2 separate regions of the Homo sapiens genome follow, and region 2 is linked to region 1. The links come from fine-mapping of genetic effects on gene expression. A gene starts in region 1. The other region holds a variant in brackets. All regions are shown on one strand. Distances are from middle to middle.

Region 1 (5,367 bases):
TCCTCTGACCGTTCATCAACATGCTGCAGCTGCTGGGGGTGGCGGCCAATGAGGTCTCGCACGGTAGTGCCAGGGCTCAGGCTGCAGTATAGCTGGAACACATCCCGGAGACTGGCCCTCTTGTGCCCTGTGGGTGCCAGGGATCAGCTCATCATGTGGCCCTGCCCTCCCCAAGATGGCTTCCCCCAGAACCCACCACTACCTTGCTTGGTCACGTAGGATAGACATGCCTCTTGCAGGGACTTGTCATCTACCAGGTCCTGGACCTTGGGCGTTGGGCAGTATACATTGGAGTACTAGAGGGTAGCAGAAGGCATAGGGGCCTGAGTGAGGGGCTTGGGAAGCTGACACAGCCCTGGTCTGGTCCAGCCACATGATCCACTCTCCACTTAACCAAACCCAACTCACCTACCTGGAGGATGGACACCAGTGTCACAACGCCGTAGTACCTGAGAGAGAGAGCTGTGCTCAGCTTCTGAGGACCATGCCTTCCCAACCCTCACACCCAGGGCCCCTGAGGTCTTCCCTGGCTGGTGACCTTGTCCCAGGTATGACTGTAGGCCCACTCACAGCAGGTTCTGGATAGCAATGCGCACCAGGTTGAGCTCCACATCTGCCTCTGCTGAAATCTTCTGGATGTGGCGGAACCCATCAATGTAGGGCAGGATCTGGGCAGAGTGGGACAAGGTCAGAAGAAACAGGATGAGGCCAGGGCTGTGGCCAGCCCCAGGTGATGATACCCAGGGAGGGATGGCATACTTGTTGTGTAGTGAGGTCCCACTGTGAGTTGAAGAAATCCTCCTTGTCTTTGGTAAAGACAGGTACATCATACTCCTGGGCCACCGGAGGGTCTGGCCGCTGCTCAATCACCTTCAAGTGGATGGTGTTGGACTCATCTGCAGGGGGCCCCATCCATATCCTCAGTGCCACTTCTTCCAAGAGGTCCTCAATTACCATCCAGGCCTCCCAGCATCCCTTGGGGCAAGCAGGTGCCTCTGGGTAGGGCTAATCTTTCTCTTTTTATGGAGTGAGAAACGGAGGCCCACAAAGGGGAAGGAATTGCCCAAGGGGCAGAGCTGGAGAGCTCTGCTTTCCCCCTACCCCCAGTCCCAGCTCCATCATGCATTGGACCCTGGACATGGGCACCTCAGCCCATGGCTATTTCCTGCCCACCAATGTGTTCATGAGTCTTGCCCTTCTCCCTGACTAGCTGGGTTCACTTTCCCATCTCTCCTCTACCCCTCTGCTGTCCTTGCAGAGGCTGGCCATACCAATGGGCAGAGTGCACCGGCCTGAGGCATTTAGCTCCTCCAGCAAGATGGTCATGATGGGCACCAACTTCTGCTTGCTCTCCTCCATGGACACGAAGCTGCTCTCTAGCTAGACAGAGCATGGAAAGCATGGTGGGCACATCCCAGGACCCCTGGCTGGTTGGCTGCCCTGAGTCCTGAGCTGGTTTGCAGGGTCCCAGGTTTGGGGGACTTTGGAGACATGGGAACACCTTCCCCAACTCTGCCTGTCGGTAAACCCAAGCCCATCTCATTGCAGACCTCTAGTGTGGTCAGATAGCCAGCCAGCTTTTTAACAATGGGCTCGAGGGCGCAGGTCTTGGCCTGGGCATCACACACGAAGCCCAGGTTGAAGAGGAGAGCATTGCGGCTGTACTTCTTGTGTTCGATGCACACAGGACAGCCGATCAGCTTCTTTTCCATAGCTGTGCTGGATAATTGGAACACAGTCAGGCCCCCAAGCCTGTCCCTTCCTCCTCCTGGGACAACCCCTGCCACCCACCGCTCACCCCGAGCTAGGGTCTCACACAGTGATAAGCTTGTTCTGCAGCTCTGGCTTGGTGATGATGTACACTTGGACTGTGTCAAACAGCTCTCGGGAGATGAAGTCTTCAGGGACCTGGGGAGGGGAGTGGCAATGGGCCCCTCAGTGGACATCTGTACTGGGTGTAGTACAAATGGTGACCTCCTCATGCCCCCCAAGCCCAAGTCCTCTTCTCCAGCGTTCCCCTCTCTCCCATCCACTCAGGCCTATTACTTCTTTCTGTTTCCAAACATACGCTATGATCTCACCTCCTTCCTGGCTTCTGCATATGCTGTTCCCTCTACCTGGAACACTTTCTCCTGCCTTACCTAAACTTCCTATGCATCATTTACTCTTCACTCAGTTCAGGGATACTCATGGGTCACCCAACTCACCTTCTGTGGGACCTGGAACCCCCCAACCGGATCCCTACAGCCCGATATCCTACAAACACTGCCAATGTGACGTATGTCTTCCCTGCCACATTGGGAGCCGGGGGCCTGGGTCTGACTATCCTCTAGCCTCACAGTTGTCTGCGAATGAAGCAGCATGCCTGCGTGCAGCACGGGAAACTACTGCCTTCAGGCAGCCAGTTGAGCTCTCGAGAACGTCCCTCTTCCCGCCCAGTCCCGCGAGCCCGGGTGGCACCTGATAGGTGATCTTGGGTCCCAGCGTGGGGTGGAACTCGCTGAAGAATATGCATTCGATGCGGCAGCCGCTGCCCATGGCAATAACCGGGCCCAGGCCCGTAGCTCCTCGTTCCTCGCGCAGAGGCGTCCCCACCTCCTGTGAACACTTGTCAGAGACAGCCTCGAGGCCTGTGTCGCTGGGGCACGCAAGCTTGCCAATCCCTCTGCCCAATGGCGCCTGCGCAGCGCGACTCAGAGGCGTGGCTGGGGCGGGGGACGGCTCGTCCCAGGAAGTCCTGGGTGGGTAGACGTCGCACCCGGAAGTAAAGCGGCTCCGTGACGGAGCGGCGGTGCGCGCGGCAGGGCCCGGAGTATCCCGCTTTCTTTGGAGGAAACCACCGCATCAGATCTGCGCTGCGGCAGAGGCAGGCAAGTCCCTAGCGTGGAGGGGCAGCATGCTGGCAGCACTTGGGGAGGCGGTGCGCTAAGGGATTCACGCTGTAACTGGGACCGCAGCAGGGAACTACAATTTCCATAGTGCTCCGCGCCCTCCCAGCTGGCTCTACTGCCGGCGACGGCGTGGTACACGCTGGGATTTGTAGTCTTACATGGCTTTGCGCCTCCTACCTGGAAGGCGGGCCAGCGATTGGTACCAGTTCAGACATGGGTACACGTTGACAGGCCGCCGGCCGTCGACTGGCATGTTGTGACCATTCCTGGTGCTGGTCTTGGTACTGTTCTTTCCTACCATAACTTATTGGAAGAGGGTGGCATTCCTGCCTTGCAGCCTTTTCTCCAGTGAGGAGTGAACAGTGGGCACCTGAGATCCTGGCCCACGCTACTATGCTTTCAGGCTACAACCACTAGCACGGCTGACGATGGCCCTTTCTGCGGAGACCGAGTCACACATCTACCGAGCTCTGCGTACTGCTTCTGGCGCTGCCGCCCACCTTGTGGCCCTGGGCTTTACCATCTTTGTGGCTGTGCTTGCCAGGCCTGGCTCCAGTAAGTAGAATTCATAGCTGACTTCTGGGAAGGGAAGGGCCACTGTTCCTGGGGAGGAAGGGCAGTGGGACTTCCGGGAACAGGCCTGGCTGGTTGAGGGAATTCTGTGCTGGAGCGATGAGTGAGGTGGAGCAGGTAGGTATGGCCAGGGCACACAGAATTCCTGGTTTGTCTTTCCTTCTCTGGGTGCTCCATTTGGCTGCCTCTCAGGAGGTGTAAGGGAAGGAGGGAGGACTGCCAGAGGAGTGGCAAAGCATGGCCTCTGATCCAGGAAGAGGCCAGGAAGAGAGGATAGGTGTGGGGTCAGCTTGTTGCAGAGCAAGAAGGGGCTCACAGTTTGGCAGCACCTCCTTGGGTGATGGGCTGCTGGTATTCCTCAACCCTTAAGGATTGGTATGGCTGGTTTCTTCTTGCCTCAGCCCCATGAGGCCTCCTCTTCTCATTCCAGGCCTGTTCTCCTGGCACCCGGTGCTTATGTCTTTGGCTGTAAGTAGTGGGCCTGGGCAGTTCTTAGGGGTGGGAGCATGGGCATGGTTGGTGGCCCTGGCAGCCTCTGAATCTTTGTCCACATTTAATATCTGTTTGGAAGAGTTGCATGCTCCAACTACTCCTGCCCATGGTATATATTTCAGACTTGAGGCTGGGCACGGTGGCTCATGCCTGTAATCCCAGCACTTAGAGGCCGAGGCGGGCACATCACCTGAGGTCAGGAGATCGAGACCATCTTGGCCAACATGGTGAAACCCCGTCTCTACTAAAAATACAAAAAATTAGCCGGGCATGGTGGCACGCGCCTGTAGTCCCAGCTACTCGGGAGGCTGAGGCAGGAGAATCGCATGAACCCAGGAGACGGAGGTTGCAGTGAGCCAAGATTGCGCCACTGCACTCTAACCTCTAACCTAGGCGACAGAGCGAGGCTCTGTCCCAAAAAAAAAAAAAAACCCAAAAACAAAAAAACCCCCCAAAAAACCAAAAATTAGCTGGGTGTGGTGGCAGGTGCCTGTAATCCCAGTTACTCAGGAGCCTGAGGCAGGAGAATTGCTTGAACCCGGAAGGCGGAGATTGCAGTGAGCCGAGATCAGGCCACTGCACTCCAGCCTGGGTGACAGAGAGAGACTATCTCCAAAAAAAAAAAAAAAAAAAAAAAGAGACTTGAATCAGAGTAATGAAGACCCAGGACCCAGGTCAAATGGGTAAGATTTGTCTAAGCACAATGAGGCTTCACCCACCTCTAGGCAGAAAGCTGAGACATTGCATTTGGATGTACCTCTGTCCCTTTTTACTTTAATTTCTGGTGATGCACCTAACTTTCCCTGAAACAGTGCACCCATGTGGCCAGCTCTTGCCAAGAAATTGTATCCAGCCCCACGTTAGGGAAACAAAGCTTGTGAATCATTTATAACTGCCACATCTCAAACCCTGTGTTTGCTTGGTAACATACGACAGATGACATTTCAGACTGGCACCTAGGAGGAAGTGTGGAGATTATTCAGGGCACATATATCATCCCAGATGGGGTTTTCCACTCTTGCCCCACCAAATGGATAGTCTTGTCAGTGGGGAGAGAAAGAAAAAGGGGAATCAGCCCAGACTCACTGGCAGCTAAGGGTTACATAAAGCCCTCTTCTCCTCTTCTGGGGCAGCACCCTCACTTGAGCTTCCCATCCCCTGTTTCCTCAGTTCTCCTTCCTGATGACCGAGGCACTACTGGTGTTTTCTCCTGAGAGTTCGCTGCTGCACTCCCTCTCACGGAAAGGCCGAGCACGCTGCCACTGGGTGCTGCAGCTGCTGGCCCTGCTGTGTGCACTGCTGGGCCTCGGCCTTGTCATCCTCCACAAAGAGCAGCTTGGCAAAGCCCACCTGGTTACGCGGCATGGGCAGGCAGGGCTGCTGGCTGTGCTGTGGGCAGGGCTGCAGTGCT
Region 2 (5,367 bases), 170 kb before region 1:
GAGCACTGGCTTCAACTTAAAGTAACCAGCTGCATTAGCCCCTAATAAGAGAGTCTGACTGTCGTTCGAAGCTTTGAAGCCAGGAATTGATTTCTCCTTGATAGCCGTGAAAATCCTAGATGGCATGTTCTTCCACGAGAAGGCTGTTTCTTTCTTTCTTTTTTTTTTTTTTTGAGATGGAGTCTTGCCGTATTTCCCAGGCTGGAGTGCAGTGGCACCATCTTGGCTTACCACAACCCCTGCCTCCTGGGTTCAAGCGATTCTCCTGCCTCAGCCTCCCAAGTAGCTGGGATTACAGGCGCATGCCACCATGCCCGGCTAATTTTTGTATTATTAGTAGAGAAAGCGTCTCGCCATGTTGACCAGGCTGGTCTTGAACTCCTGACCTAAAGTGTTCCTCCCACCTCCGCCTCCCAAAATGCTGGGATAAGAGGTGTAAGCCACTGGCCCTGGCCAGAAGGCTGTTTTATCTGCATTGAAAATCGTGTTTAGTGTAGCTCCCTTCATCCATGATCTTATCTAAATCTTCTGGAAAACTTGCTGCAGCTTCTCCATCAGCACTTGCTACTTCACCTTGCATGTTTATGTTTTGGAGATGGCTGCTTTCCTTAAACCTCATGAACCAGCCTCCGCTGGTTTCAAACCTTTCTTCTCCAGCTTCCTCTCTTCTCTCAGCCTTCATAGAATTGAAGACAGTTAGGGCTTTGCTCTGGATTAGACTTTGGCTTAAAGGAATGTTGTGGCTGGTTTGATCTTCCACGTAAACCAGTAAAACTTTCACCATATCAGTGATAAGGCTGTTTCACTTTCTTATCATTTGTGTGTTTACTGGAATAGCCCTTCTAATTTCCTTCAAGAACTTTTCCTTTGCATTCACAACTTGGCTAACTAGTGCTAGCAGCCTAGTTTGGGACCTATCTCAGCTTTCAACATGCTTTCCGTACTAAGCTTAATCATTTCTAGCTTTTTTGTTTTTTTTTATTTGTTTGTTTATTTTTTGACAGAGTTACACTCTGTCCCCCAGGCTAGAGTGAAGTGGCATGATCTTGGCTCACTGCAACCTCCACCCCCCGACTCCCTGCTCCCCGGTTCAAGTGATTTTCCTGCCGCAGCCTCCCAAGTAGCTGGGATCATAGGCGCCCACCACCACCTCTGGCTAATTTTTATATTTTTAGTAGAAGTGGGTTATGCCATGTTGGCCAGGCTGGTCTCCTGACCTCAAGTGATCCCCTGCCTCAGCCTCCCAAAGTGCTAGGATTACAGGCATGAGCCACTGCACCTGGCCCATTTCTAGCTTTTGACTTAAAGTGAGAGATAATATGACTCTTCCTTTCACTTGAACACTTAGAGGCCATTGTGGGATTATTAATTGATCTAATTTTAATATTGCTGTGTCCCAGAGAATGGAGAGGCCCAAGAAGAGGGAGAGAGATGGGAGAATGGCCAGTAAGTGGAGCAGTCAGAACACACACAGCATTTATCGATTAAGTTCACTGTTTTATATGGGTGAGGTTCACGGTGCCCCGAAATAATTGCAATAGTAACATCAAAGATCACTGATCACAGATCACCATAACAGACAGTTTGAAATATTGCAAGAATCACCAAAATGTAGGCAAGGCGCGGTGGCTCATGCCTGTAATCCCAGCCCTTTGGGAGGCCGAGGCAGGTGGATCACCTGAGGTCAGGAGTTCGAGACCAGCCTGGCCAACATGGTGAAACCCCGTCTCTACTAAAAATACAAAAATTAGCCAGATGTAGTGGTGGGCACCTGTAGTCCCAGCTACTTGGGAGGCTGAGGCAAGAGAGTTGCTTGAGCCTGGGAGGTGGAGGTTGTAGTGAGCTGAGATGGTGCCACTGCACTCTAGCCTGGGTGACAGAGCAAGACTCCATCTCAAAAAAAAAAAAAAAGAAGAATTACCAAACTGTGACACAGACACAGAGACACAAAGTAAGCATATGCTGTTGAAAAAATGGTGCTAACAGACTTGCTTGACACAGGGTTGCCACAAACCTTCCTTCTGTAAAAAATGCAGTATTTGCAGTGCACAAAGCCCAGTAAACTGAGGTGTGCATATGCTTCCTAATTCTTTCACTACACTTTATTGTTAGCTATGCTCTTTTTTTGTTTTTTTGTGTTTTTTTTTTTTATTTTTGTTCCTGCTTTTTGAGACGGTTGTCTCACTGTGTCACCAGGCTGGAGTGCAGTGGTGCGATCTCGGCTCACTACAACTTCCGCCTCCCAGGTTTAAGGGATCTTCCTGCCTCAGCCTCCTGAGTAGCTGGGACTACATGCGTGCACCACCACGCTCAGCTAATTTTTTTGTATTTTTAGTAGAAACAGGGTTTCACCACATTGGCCAGGATGGTCTCGATCTCTTGACCTCATGATCTGCCAGCCTTGGCCTCCCAAAGTGCTGGGATTACAGGAGGCATAAGCCACCATGCCCGGCCTCTTTTTTTTTTTTTAAGATGGAGCCTTGCTCTGTTGCCCAGGCTGGAGTGCAGTGGCATGATCTCGCTCACTGCAACCTCCGCCTCCCTGGTTCAAGCAATTCTCCTGCCTCAGCCTCCCGTGTAGCTGGGATTACAGGCACCTGCCACCATGCCCAGAAAATTTCTGTATTTTAGTATAGGTAGGGTTTCACCATCTTGGCCAGGCTGGCTTCCAGCTCCTGCCCTCAAATGATCCACCCACCTGGGCCTCCCAAAGTGCTGGGATTATAGGCATGAGCCACTGCAGCTGGTCTATTAGCTATGCTCTTGAGGTGATTTACATTTGTTGTGTCTGTGGGGTAGAAATACTGTACAGTGGTGTTGGCAGCTCTTCCTGATTTTGCTTTCAGTGACCTCAGGTTGGTAGCTTGAAATTAGTTGTGGCAGGAGTATTCACACCACAGAAATGGGCTATTGCTACTAATCAGAGCTGATAGTTACTAATCCCAACCCTCCCAGAGCCAGTGGTGAAACACTGACCAGCACTCCACTGGAGATAGGATCATGCCCCAGGGAGCCTGAGCGGGGAGATAAGGCCCTGCCCTGGAAGTCATCTGAGCTGTGCCCTGGCCCTAGCAAACAGCAGCCCCCCAACTGACCCACTGGCCTACCCACAGATGAGGAGCTCTATGCTGGTGTGTACATCGATTTTATGGGCACTGATGCAGCCATCTTCCGCACACTTGGAAAGCAGACAGCCATGCGCACGGATCAGTACAACTCCCGGTGGCTGAACGGTAAGCGCAGCCCCAGGAGCCCTTCCGTGGCCATGTGTCTGGGATG[C/T]GGCAAGGAGGTCGTAAAGAAGCACATGTGGGGGAAGTGGGGACATGTTTAGCCTATGACTACCTGGGGCAGGGGTAGTTTCTTATCTGGAGAGGAGTTGGGGGTGTTCTTGCACCTGGCTGGGGATTCTGTTGGAGAACATCAGGGGCACCATCAGAGTAGGGGCTCACCCAGCTGACCCCTGCCACCTGCAGACCCGTCGTTCATCCATGCTGAGCTCATTCCTGACAGTGCGGAGCGCAATGATGATAAGCTTTACTTCTTCTTCCGTGAGCGGTCGGCAGAGGCGCCGCAGAGCCCCGCGGTGTACGCCCGCATCGGGCGCATTTGCCTGGTATGCATTGGCAGAGCCACCAGGCTGCCCCTTCCACCAGTTCTGGCTTCATCAGCCCTGCTCCAGCCAGGGCTTGGGGTCAAGAGCTGATCTGACCCGGCCTCTTGCCCCACCCCCCAGAACGATGACGGTGGTCACTGTTGCCTGGTCAACAAGTGGAGCACATTCCTGAAGGCGCGGCTCGTCTGCTCTGTCCCGGGCGAGGATGGCATTGAGACTCACTTTGATGAGCTCCGTGAGTGCCCAGCAGGCAGGCAGGGTGCTCTGGCTACAGCAAGAGGGATAGAGGCGGGATGGGCGATCAGGGTGCCTTTGGTGGGCCCCCTCCCCTGTGCAGGAGTGGGTGGGGCCCAGGGGCTCCCGCCCATGGCACCCTCCAACACCTTCTCCCTCTGTCCCCAGAGGACGTGTTTGTCCAGCAGACCCAGGACGTGAGGAACCCTGTCATTTACGCTGTCTTTACCTCCTCTGGGTGAGGCTGGGGTCAGGGCCAGCAGTGGCAGGGAGTGGCCCCGTTGGGGGATTGTAACTCGTGGAGAACCCCAGCCCGGTGGCGAGCTGTGGGGAGGGGGCAGTTTGGGGAGGGGCCCTAGGTGGAGGGTCTGTCCTGCTCAGCAGCGCCTGCCATGCCCACAGCTCCGTGTTCCGAGGCTCTGCCGTGTGTGTCTACTCCATGGCTGATATTCGCATGGTCTTCAACGGGCCCTTTGCCCACAAAGAGGGGCCCAACTACCAGTGGATGCCCTTCTCAGGGAAGATGCCCTACCCACGGCCGGGCACGGTAAGGACCCCACTCATCCTGCCTCTCCCCTTTCTCTTCTTCTAAGAGGCCTCTGGGTCAGGCTCTTTGCAACATGGGCCCCACCATCATGGCCCTCCCAGCCAGCGGAGGCGGTGAGCTGTAATGCACACACAGACGGGCCTTCACACACAGTGTCAAGCTGTGGAGGAGCCCAGATGGGATTCTGGGACAAAGATGGTGGGTTGGGCGTGGTCGGCTGCTCCTCAGAGGGTCCTCTGTGGGGCTGTTTGGGAGCTGAAGGTTGGGGGGAAGCGTCTTCCCTGCAGGTGCTGGAGGCAGGCTGGAGGTTGGCTCAGCTGAGGAACAGGAGGCAAAGAGCTGGGGAGGGGCAGGGCCAGGCCTCAGGCAGGGTCTCAGAGGTCACAGAGGCATGTCACTTTATCTTGATGTGACACCGGCTGATGTGGGAGCCTAAGCAGGAGAGCAGCGGATCTGGTCCAATGCAGTTCTGACTCCATGTAGTCAGGACTGGGCTGGAGAAGCTGGTCTCAGTGGGGGACAGGGGAAGCTTCCCTCCAGAGGTAACCTGGAGTCAGAAGGATGGGCCAGAGGTAAGCTGGCCATGACGGGGGGCAGGCTGAGCCCAGGTTCAGGGGACAGCTTCAGGAAGGAGGAGAGTGAGCCTGGTGTGTGACAAGGACGTCGGGGCCTGCAGTCCAGCTGTGCAGGAGGGAGACGGGTGAGACCCTAGGAACAACCAGAGAGGAAGGAGATGACAGGGGTGGGGAGGGGGACATGGAAGGGAGTGGTCCGCTTGGCCAAATGCTGCCACGAGGTCATGGCACCTGAGGCCAGGGAGGTGGCTGTGGCATTTGGCCACCTGGGACCTTGGCCAGAGCAGGACCTGTAGAGGTCAGGTGCAGGGCAGAAACTTGGAGAGCGGGTTTGGGGAGAGGAGCAGGTTGAGGTAGTGGGGACAGACAGTGCAGCGGCCTCTTCTGAAGCTAATGGC

Evidence for each region.
Region 2: its variant is fine-mapped to the expression of CYB561D2 in blood mononuclear cells (TOPMed, PIP above 0.99).

The regions. Positions count from the first base shown.
Region 1 is chr3:50,348,115-50,353,481 of GRCh38, forward strand. It overlaps CYB561D2 (cytochrome b561 family member D2), which reads left to right and starts at 2,748. Exons shown (of 4, transcript NM_001291284.2): 1 at 2,748-2,870; 2 at 3,295-3,446; 3 at 3,895-3,932; 4 at 5,127-5,367. The coding sequence starts at 3,320. NPRL2 (NPR2 like, GATOR1 complex subunit) reads right to left here and starts at 2,661. Exons shown (of 11, transcript NM_006545.5): 1 at 2,461-2,661; 2 at 1,817-1,908; 3 at 1,551-1,719; 4 at 1,272-1,380; 5 at 760-896; 6 at 571-668; 7 at 413-449; 8 at 203-296; 9 at 10-127. The coding sequence starts at 2,538. LOC127898564 (CYB561D2-LOC101928965) reads left to right here and starts at 2,748. Exons shown (of 5, transcript NR_183066.1): 1 at 2,748-2,870; 2 at 3,295-3,446. RefSeq lists an enhancer at 2,703-2,922.
Region 2 is chr3:50,179,171-50,184,537 of GRCh38, forward strand. SEMA3F (semaphorin 3F) reads left to right here. Exons shown (of 19, transcript NM_004186.5): 8 at 3,114-3,233; 9 at 3,474-3,613; 10 at 3,734-3,848; 11 at 4,016-4,085; 12 at 4,250-4,394. Among named protein-coding and RNA genes, the nearest start is that of GNAT1, 9.8 kb to the right of the region's middle. The variant C/T (reference allele first, on the strand shown) is at 3,280.